Linked DNA regions of Homo sapiens: region 2 is linked to region 1. Evidence: fine-mapped expression QTL. A gene starts in region 1. The other region holds a variant in brackets. All regions are shown on one strand. Distances are between the middles of the regions. Region 1 holds the start of KLF7 (KLF transcription factor 7). Region 2 overlaps KLF7 (KLF transcription factor 7).

What was found.
Region 2: its variant is fine-mapped to the expression of KLF7 in whole blood (INTERVAL, PIP above 0.99).

The regions. Positions count from the first base shown.
Region 1 is chr2:207,163,336-207,168,711 of GRCh38, forward strand. It overlaps KLF7 (KLF transcription factor 7), which reads right to left and starts at 2,613. Exons shown (of 4, transcript NM_003709.4): 1 at 2,132-2,613. The coding sequence starts at 2,233. It overlaps MIR7845 (microRNA 7845), which reads left to right and starts at 3,065; the gene lies at 3,065-3,163. RefSeq lists enhancers at 206-914, 915-1,623, 2,225-2,324, 2,332-3,040, 3,041-3,748 and 1 more and silencers at 2,815-3,454, 4,075-4,124.
Region 2 is chr2:207,076,497-207,081,872 of GRCh38, forward strand. It overlaps KLF7 (KLF transcription factor 7), which reads right to left. Exons shown (of 4, transcript NM_003709.4): 4 at 1-4,768. The coding sequence ends at 4,717. Among named protein-coding and RNA genes, the nearest start is that of MIR2355, 31 kb to the right of the region's middle. The variant GTTCT/G (reference allele first, on the strand shown) is at 2,536.

The DNA.
Region 1 (5,376 bases):
GGGGTTCCGAGGGGTGAAAAATCCTTTGCCTGTAGAAACTAAACTAGAGCTTCCCTGAATGGGGAGGAGGCAGAGGAGCAGGGGGAGGAGGGGAGAAGGAAGAGCAGAGATGGCTTCTTAGGAAACAATAGATCTAATACATCCTCTAGTTGTCAAACCGATGATGTTTCTTTGCAGATCTAGAGTTTGTCCTGGATGGTCTAGCCAGATCTAGAAAAGCAGGTTTCCTGTGAAGAGACCTTCCTCCAAATCTGGCTTTACTACTCTGAAAACTTGAACCAAAACAAAGTTGCATGATTCATCAGTAGGGAACGTTCTAACAAATAAAGCCAACTTTCTTCCTTCTAACACTGCTTAACAGTTAGTCACAAACAAGGGCTGCCTTGGGCAGGCTGACTAAATCAACAGATTCCCTTCTCTAACCTGTCTAGACAGTTGTTAATATGCAACCGATTCCATACCAGTGGGCTGACAGTGTGAAATGAAGGCTATTTCAGAAGATTTTGGTTTAATTAGCATTGGAAATAAAAGGAAGAAAAAGATCCAGTGAGACCCTTCATGAGACACACTCTCGTTAAGGATAAGGAAAAGGATGCATTGAAGAAAGACTTTATTCTAAAAATATGTGAACTGTGTATGTGTTTACAGAGAGACAGAGTCAAGCATCTGCTAGCGTCCTTGGACAAGAATGCATGTGTGGACACAGAGACACCAGACGCCAATACCTGGAGGAAAACTCACAGCCTCTGACCAGAAGTGAACTAGCAACAATGGTACAGTTAAAGGATCCGCCTTGCCACTCGGCTCCTTATACCAAAAGCCAAACCTCTTTTGCTAAAGCAGAGACTGTTACATCTCAGCCTCAAGCTGGCAAATCCTGCTTTGGATCCCGGCAGAGGAAATTCAGCCGTTCATTAGCCTTAACAAGCTGCTGTCACTAAGCGAAGAAATTACACGAGCAGCCACACACCGAGCCTCTCACAGCCCTCCCCCCAAGGGCAAGCGGGTTTCTCCAGGACGGACTGTACAAGTTCACACTTCCTATGTGCAAATCCGGACTGTCTTCTTGGACTTTCCATGGTGCACACTGTACAATTTTTAAATACCCGTGTCCCCCCGCCCCCACCCACCATCTTTCCTGCAGAATGTCCCCTCAGCAGCTCCTAATCGCTGCTGAAAAAAACCACTGTTTCCGCAGCAGAGCCAGCACTTTCCACTGACCAGCACTTTCTTTATTCCACTTCACAAAGCCCAGTGAACTTGTCACCAGCCCCACTTCATCCTCCCTGGGACGGCTAGCCAACTTGGCATCGGTGCCCTTCAGCATCCTGGGAGTTTCTTAACTAGTCCTCTAAGACAAAGTCAAAGGCATGGAAGCACACATCAGCCTTTGTCCGAGGTTGTGCTGCCTAACTAGAGAAGGACCCTAAACAAAAAAGAGAAACAAGGACACGCATAGAGGGTGTTCTCTTTCTGGAGGGATCACACTGGGAAAACCTACAATTCATTGTCAGCCTCAGCTACATCTTCCCGTCCTCCTTGAGTATCTTTTGTCAGTGGGCTCTTCTCTCTTTTGCCTACCTTCTAATCTCAAAATCAAGCTCCTATTCTTTATTGACACTCGCTAATTACTGAAAAACACTCCGCTTTGCTCCTGCCCACCCTCCCCCGCCCCCCATCCGATGGTCATAAGCACCAGTTGAAACAGATGAACCTGATTTCAGGTATCAAGTGGGTAGAGCTCATGCATGCGAGAACGTGGTCCCTGTCAGCAATCGCTCCTAACACCCCAAACCACCTTCCCACCCGGCTCCTCCGAACCCCAGAAGTTCGGCAGGTCTCTGATAGGGGACAGCAAACCCGACAACGTGTGCGCAGGGATGTGTGTTGGCGACTGAAACGCAGGCAGCTCGCACCGGCTGCTCAGCTCGGCACTCTACGAGGTTAGGGGTGGGTGGAGAGGTAAGCGCAGATGACTGTTTCAGAAAACATTTTCAACAACAGACAGCCAAAAAGGAAGAAAAAAAAGTCAAACAAACAAACAAAAATTTCAACCCAGAGCCCACACCAACGCAGCCCCTGCGTCTCCGCCGCCACCACACGATTTACACAAGTAATTTAAATCATTCACCTGCTGCCAGGTCTCCTCCAGGGATGGTAAAGCTGAGAAGTAGCCGGTGTCGTGGACAAGTTGTAGCTCCTGGAATATACTATAACTAGCCAACACGTCCATGCTGCTGCTGCCGGGCAAAACGGGAGGCGAAACCCTCCCCCGAACACAGTTGGGGCTGTTTGTTTGTCAGTCTGTCTGGCTCACCCCCCAAGAAGGCAGACATCCAGTGGCCCTTTTGTTTTGTTTTGTTTCAGTCAACTAAAAAGGAAAAAAAAAAATCAATGCAGGAGAGGGAGAGAGGAGGTGAGAGAGGAGCGAGTGAGTGGGGTGGATGGAGAGAGGCATCCAGCGTGTACAGTGCAGACGACTGCCAGGAAAAGGGGACTTCTCCACGGGAGTAACAATTCCCTTCCAGGGCTCTAATCACTCCAGCTCGTGGATCAGGAAGGGGGATGCAAACTCACTGACACGAAGCTGCCATCTATTTCTGCAGCGCTGTTCGCTCCTAATGCAATCTTTGCTCTTTATTTTGGGAGGTTGCATTTTTTTCTCTCGCGATCGCTTCTCTTCCCCCCCCTTCCCTTCCCTCCCCACCCCCCACCCCATCCTTGCTAGTTTGTAGTCTTCCCCCTCCCTTTTCTCCTCCTCCTGCTCTTCCCCCTCCCCAAACTCCCTCCCTCCGTTCGGTTCTCCGCGCAGCCGTGGGATCTCGAGGAGGGCGTCCATTAGGCCGCGTGTGACCATGTAAGGTAAACAGGGGGCTCATGAAGTCACTGAGGACCAATGGGGAGCCCGGAGCAGAGCCTGGGGCGGGGCTTGGCCCTGGCGGCGGGCGCGGATTGGCACGCTGCGGATCTCCCTGCTGCCTTACAAGGCGGTGCGAGGCGAGCTATTTTTAGAGGGCTATATAAGGGGGCTGAGGCGGCCGCCCGGCGGCCGGGCAGCGCGAGCGCAAGGGACAGGGAGGGTCGTGGCGACACTCGCGCCAGCTCCCGGGACGGCTGGGCTCGGGCTGGTCGCCGACCTCCGACCCTCCACTAGATGCCTGGCAGAGCCCGGCGCGTCCGGAGCCCGCGCCCCTCAGAGGGAAGGGGTCGCGCGTCGCCGCGGCGGCCCTGAGGCTGACGGTCGGGAGGTGAAAGGCCGGAGTGCGGGGTCAGGACGCCTCCTGGAGGGGGCGCGGCGCAGGGGGCCGCGGGGAAGCCGCCGAGGGCGCGGAGCGGGAAGGAAGGACAGTGGCCACCCCGCCTCCGCCTGGGCACGGGGCAGGGACCCGCGCGAGGCGGTGCCGGGGAGGTCCTCACGTACTCAAAAACAAGCAGAAAAGGCATCCAGGGCCCCTTCCCGAACTCCCCACGGGCTGCCAGGGTGCAGAGAAGAAGCGCCTGAGGAGGAAGTGCCACACAATGGGAGAGAACAAAGGGGAGCGGAGCGAGACCGCGGCCTGCGCCCGCCCCCCGCTTGCGCACAGTCCCCGCCCCGCCCCGCGGGCGCCGCCGCCGCCGCCCTCCCTCCCGCGCCTCCTTCTGACCCCGAGCGAGAGACCTGGTCGGGAGTCCGGCGGCTAGAGTTGATTGCAAGGGGCCTGTTGCTCGACTGTGCGTTAAAGAGGCTAGAGGGAGCCTAGGTAGACGTGGGGCGCAAGCTGGAGCCGGCAGCTTGCGAGGGGGCCTTTACGTGATGAGGCTCACCATGGGGTCTCCAGCGAGGTGTCTGCAGAGCTTCGATGGTGAGAGGAGGAACTCGATTTCTCGTTTTCTGGAGTTGGGATGTAGACATAGAGAGATCTGTTACATCTGAGATGAAAACCCTGCACAATTCACGTTAGGGTTGGCCAATTGTTTGCTTGACCTTAAATGGTTAGTGTGGTTTAAGCTTCCCCAAAATGCGCTGTGAGCTGAGCTTCCACTTTTGGAATGATTGCAGAATTCGGTGCTTAAGAGATGAGAAACTTCGTTCTACCAGTAATGGAAGAAACGCTTCACCTTAATCACCCTCCTTGTCTTTCCCCTCCCTTTGACTATGTAGGACTCGATAACACAACATTTGAAAGATTCTACTCTATGAAATAAGCACAGATTGAAATTCAGTATTTGCCAAGGAATATTAAACATGAATTACTGGGATTGAGGAAAGCCTGATTTATTTACTTGTTAGTGTCTGGAATTCTGTTGGCCAGATTCATAGCATTCATTGTATGAGTATAATTGGAACATTTACTCTAATGTAGATGCAGATGCATCTGCAATTAGATGTGCAAGGACGCTGCCAGCTAACTAGCTGCACGACTTTGAGCGAATTACTGGGTCAGAACTTGTATCTACCCATCTCAGAAACAGAAATAGTGGGATCCGCGTTGTCTAGTTGTTATGAAGAGTCAAAATATCTTTGGTAACTCACCTAGCATAGTATCTGACACTATTAGGTGAATACTAAATATTAGCTATCATTGTCTCCCCACTTGAGCTATGTAAACTAATAGGACCTTTAGGAGAATATACTATTAATAGAATCTTGGAGATAGAGGAAAGGTAGAAACCCCTTGCTAGTTTGTTACAAGGTCTCCCCTTCTCCATGCTCTCCCCTGACCCCCATGCTATTTCAACTGGGGGGATGGGCAGGAACCATTGAGAAACACTAGGGCAAAAAACATGTTCATGAATAATAGGGGAAGGAAAGGAACTTGGGTATAGAAAACTAGAGGCAAAAGGTGAGGCAAGACCAACCATATAATTTGGTACTTGAGACTCAAGTGAACTTATTTTGTGTGTGTTACATTATAACAATTTTTGAATAAAATAGGACATATCGGTTAACGTGAGTTTGAAGATTTTACAAATAATAGTTCCCATTTATTAAGCACTTCGAATGTGCCGTATGCGCATAAACACTTTATATGCAATGTCTCATTTAATCTTAAGGACAGCCCCAAAGTATCCCCAACTTTATGGATGAAGATACCCACGCTTGGAAATACTAAGTAAGTTGGTCAAGGTCTCACAACCTGGAAGTGGTCAAGCAGGGGTTCAAATCCAAGAGCATCTGACTCCCCACACTGTTCTGTACTGAGCTTTGTATGGTGAAAAATGGGGTTCCTCAGCTTTAAGTCAGTGTGTGTTTACAAAAATTGCTTGGGTGGGGCCGGAGGAGGAGGCTTCCATTGAGACTTTTCCTATGTAACTATCAGCCGTCTGACTTGCAAAAGGACTCAACCAAAATTTTACAAAGCAAATACTGCAAACCTCATTATGGTCTTTGCTCCA
Region 2 (5,376 bases), 87 kb before region 1:
ATTTTTCCCTTTTCTGGGATCTATTAGGAACCAACAGAGGAGATTTAAGAGTGTTAAAAGCAAGAAAAAACCCTGAAGCCTCAGGCAGTTCGTCGTGGGAGGTCACGTTATTTACAAGAAGTTTCTGCTTCCTTTCACACATTTCTGTTGTTCCATCTCAAGTATTCCCAAAGATCCTCACTGAGGAAAGTAGGCCATCAAAGAGACATTGATGTATACTCAGGATAGGCCCTCTAGTTTTCAAACTGAGATATCACCATGTTCACCGAAATTTAATCCAGACACCCTGAATTTGAGTCCTCCCCTCCTGCCCCCCAACTCTTGCGCTTGGCAGGTGGCCACTTCCCGAAAATGCAAAGGAAAGCTTCCAGGAGTAAATTTCAATCAGGTTCTATTTACTGAATGTTCATTTTGGCAATGTTCTGGGTGCAAAATTGTAGCCAGAAATGCTGGCCCTCTTAAGATTTCAAAAAAATTCTAATAAACTAAAAAATGAACCTGATTTTTGTAGTTAAATGTGTTGCATCTTTATCTTACTTTGCCTACCTTCTTCCTGCTCCTAAAAGCAACTCATGCAAAAGAGAAGACAGAAGCACTTCCCACTTTTTACTTAACATTTTATGAAGTGACTTCCATAAAGGAAACCATTTTGAACCATCAAAACGAGTCACTGGGTTTTGTTCTTGCAACTTGAGTTTCTTTTGGCTTTGCCATAAAATGCAGGAATAAAGGCAAGAGGCAATGTTCCGAATGCACTGGAAGAGCCATCCAAAAGCCCCATTTCTTTCCCCTTTGATGCAAATAGACATGGATAATCTGGAAAGCTTATCCCAAACAAAAGTCCTTATAAAATCTTCTCTGAAGCCAGAGAAGATTTTTTAAAACTAGGATTCAGTTCTGCTAATCAGGCATGAGGTTGGCTGTCCTTTTACCCTGTTATCATCAGGCAATCAAAGATGTACAAAGGGCACAAGAGGTGCAGGTGGAGAGGAGATGGCGTCGAGAGAAGAGGATATTTGAAGGGCTTTGCAAGGGAAAGCACACAGAGAGGAGGAAATGGTCAGCATGAAGTTCATTTTGGGGTCTCCAATATTTTTACAAAAATGCAGCTTTGTCATGGAATCTGAACATCTCTTTTTCTGGACATAATACTCATTACCACCAGGCATTGAGCTGAGCCATTAACCATGGGTGGGGCAGGAGGCCAGTAGCTAGGAGCAGCATTATAATTTCAGGTTTCCATGTCTATGACTTACAGTCATGTGGCAGGAGAAAGAAGTATAATTTGAAATTACAAAAAAAAAAAATTGTCAGTGGCTTAGAAACTCTTTTTCTACATGAACAAATCTGAACCCTGGATAAAAGCGTGCTTGTTAGGACACCACCAGAAACACCAGGCCGGGTTTTTCCTTTCAAATTTGGGATCCCCTGGAGGGTTAGGAGGTAACAACTGAAATGAGAAAGGGGTTTAATGTGTTTCAAATGTCCATTAATGCACTGTTTTAAATAACCAGTCCTCTTGGGAGCAAAATGTCTTCAGGTTACTTCTTGGAAAACCTGCTCGCTCTAGCGGCTCTTAGTAACCATCTCTGCCACTGCAGAGGTGATGGACGTTTTATTACAAATCCATTTCCAAAATGATCAGGACTGGTCATCATTCACAGGTGTCAACTCGGCTAAAGAAGAACAGTTTCAAAGCCATCCACTTAGCACCCACCAAATTCTTAGGCCAATTCTCACAGTCAACAAATGACTCTGAAGCAAGCAAGCACCACCATTGAGTTTCAATGCACCCTGCTCCAAGAAAGGTCAGGAGCAGATTACAAAGGACCTCACTGATACAAAAGAGAGAGAAATTACTGAACATTTCAGACACTGATGAGGACCAAAGGGCCTTTGTTCTGCCACATTCAAATGAGACCACAGATGAAAATAGGGAGCAAACAAGCAATGATTACTCTTTTGCATTTTTTAAACTTTCTTTTTAATAGAGCCTTGCATTGGTCAGTTCGAAAATTAAATTAAGTATTATAAACCCTTAATAATAGCATTCGAGAGGCAAGAGCAGCTCCAGCTTGGGAGAGAACATTTGCAAATCGTGGTGGCCATGGCTTAATGCCATCACTGGCGTGTGCGTGCATTCATGCTGGAGGCTGCTACATAAAGGAAAAGAAAGGAACCAACAGAATTCAGGGTGTCTAAAAGTTTCATCTAGTGCACTGACTGGAGGCGCTACAGTTTAATACAGCTGAGGTTCAAGGTCCCTCACACATCCTTCATCCAGGAAGGATGCACCACACATTCAAATATAATCCCATGGTACGCCCTGATGGACTGGCCACAAAATGCACTCAAATGCAGCAGAGAACTACGAGATTGTCAGCAAGCAGTGCTCCAGAAATTGTTTTTAAGTCATGTCTAGTTTTAAATCTTTGGAATAAAACTGATTTTTAATACCCTCCAACTAACATACATACAATTGCCTCCGGCAAATGGACAGATTTTGTGTGTGTGTGCGCGTGTGTGTTAACGGGT[GTTCT/G]TTCTTTTTTTTTCGTTTTGTATTATTTTGTTTTTTTTTTTGTTTTTGTTTTTGTTTTTTTTGGTCTAAATAGAAAAAAGGAAAAGGAGAAAGTAAATTCTTAGGGCCAGACCTCGAAATGCCCCAAGTGTCCAATTGGCAGCTATAGCATTTGTGAGGAGGTTCCTTTGCCCTCAGACGAGTAGTTTCAACATTTCAGTGAAAACAAAGGTTGCAGAAAGCTGAAAACCCAGATCTTGAAGGTTGCTGTCATATATGTGTTTGTGTTTCTTATATTATTTCCTTTTGACTTCAGTTTTGCATCCCAAATATGTATGGGGTGGCATTTTAACAGTCAATGAGTCAAACAGTCAAAGGAGGACAGGAGGGGAGCCAGCTGGTAGGAGGGAGCAGCAACCGTGTGTGGACCAAGCGCCATTTTTGTTTTATAGACGTGTCTTGAAGGGATGGTCCCAGAATATACAAAATATACAATCTGTCCTAATAACCACCCCGCTTGCTTGCATAGGCCATTTGATGGTCCTAAAGGCAGTCTTTGGAGTTGAGGCCAGTGCCAGCTAGCTAGGAATGCGGGTAGATAGAGACCACTACTGGATGTGTGAGTGTGGCATGACAAGTAAGGACTGTAGACTCCTTTGGAGTCAGCTTGCAGAGTAAATGTGAGGCCTCTGTTAATCCTGGGGGTTCTAGGTCACAAGTCATGGTGGGCCTAGCCAAAAAAAAAAGGAAAGAAAGAAACGTGTCTCTCCTTTTAGACAGCCCATGAGAGAAACACCTCAACCTTTTCCTTAAATGTCAACCCTTCACTCCCACAATGGCGTTTTAAATTGTGTATTGTAACACGTAGGGGAATAGGAGCTCAGTGGGCATGACAGAGAAGACAGGATGATCTTTTGTGAAGCCACTAGACTTGGGAGGCATCCTCAGTTTTCCCCACTCCTGGAAAGAGTGATATTTTTGGCTTTTTGTCAGGTCATAAACCAGAGTTAAATTAAATACGCAGCTGCCCTCTGAGACTAGCGACATCTATGCTGTAACTGGTTATGGGGTAGCAATGACACACAGCACAACGGTTGATCACTATGAGCTGAGGTCATCATGCCTCAAGGAGGATGAGAGAACTGTGATGTCCCATCTGACTGGCTGCTTCGAGAGCTGGACATCCAGGTGCCGAGAGAGTCCTGGAGAGGTTTAGTCCATGGAGAAAAGATAAAACATTTAAGCTTCCAAATAAGCTTTTCAAGTTTTCGTTAGCAAAAACGGAGAGATTAAAAAGAAAAAATCTAGCACTGGCAATAAGGTGAGGCTCAAGGGATATACTGTGATTTATCATCAAGGACTTTATTCTCTTGGCCACTTTGCAGTCATGCTAGAAGTTTCCAGAATCCCTAGTGCATATGGTGTGCAAAAGTCAAAACGTAAGAAAAGAAAACTCCTCCCTTGAGAGTGAAGTCTACAGAAATGCAGGCCAGAAAGGTGTAAGGTGTTATTCCAGTCTGCCGCCGCTAAGGCCGTTGGGATCGACGCGAAAGATCTCAATAGTACTAAGAACCAAAACCAGTCAACAGTTCTGTGAGGAAGTCTGACGCACGGAATAGTAGGACTTTTCACACACAAAGGACAAATAAACCAAGAGTTAATTTTGGCTACCAAACTGCAATTTGGTTTTCTAGGTCATTTTCCCCCAACTATTTAAAAAGAAACATTAGTGCTACACATATGCAACTTTAAGATGCTGGATTCTCCTATCAAGTTGCACTGAGAAGCAAGTGAAATAAGCCCCTCGGACTGCCGTCCACCTGCACAGACGTCACATCCATTTTCTTTGATTTCCATTGGCAACAGCGGGAAATAATTCCAATAGTGCTGAAGTAAGCAGCCAGTCTGCCTTGCTGAGTTCACCTGGTTTCCTTCTTCATCTTCTTCCATCTGGCTAGGGCAAGGCATAAAGAATAGACGTATATATTTTAAATATAGTTGAGTGCATGACAGTGTGTATGTGTGTGGGTCTGTGAGTGTGTGTATATGTGTGTGTGTGTGTGTGTGTGTACAGAGGTTTATAAGTGAGAACTTTCTTCTGCGAGGCAATGGGTCCCCGCCTGAAGTCCAGCCCCCTGCCTCATGGCGTTTCCTTTAGACACTAGCCGATGCCATGGCAACTCTGGCCTTTCGGTTTTTTAGATATGTCTCTTCATGTGGAGGGCAAGATGGTCAGACCTGGAAAAACACCTAGGAGATATAAACAACAAGGATATTAGAGAACTCCCAGCAAACAGCTTGACTTGCATCACTCCTTAGGAAATGATTTCCCTTACTTTAAACAGAGACAGTGCACATGCATTGAGAAACAGGGCCATGTGTTGGGAAGGTAAGTTTAAGGGACAAAATGTTTGGGTTTAAATCCTATCTCTTCCAATAGCTGTGTGACTCGGAGCACATTAACCTGTCTGTACTTTAATTCCTCCTCAGTAGAGTGGGGATAATTATAGCATTTACCTCATAGGTGGGTTGTGAGGATTAAATGAGATGATCTATGCAAGGTACTTAGAATACGGACTGGCACATCGTAGGATCTCAGTGCATGTTAACTGTTATGATCATAATTGTGATTATTAAAGAAGAATGGGAAAGTGCTTTTGAAACCTGTGTCATGCCTGCATACTGTAAATATAATAAAGAATAATTAGTCTATATCATCAAAGGGTGGAACTTTGAAATTTCAACACCCAGATTTCAACCCTAAACTTTACAATGAAAGCCTAGAAATACTGCTTGTGATACTACTTACAGGCTTATCAGACACTCTATATTCAAGTCAAAAAAAAAAAAAAAAAAGG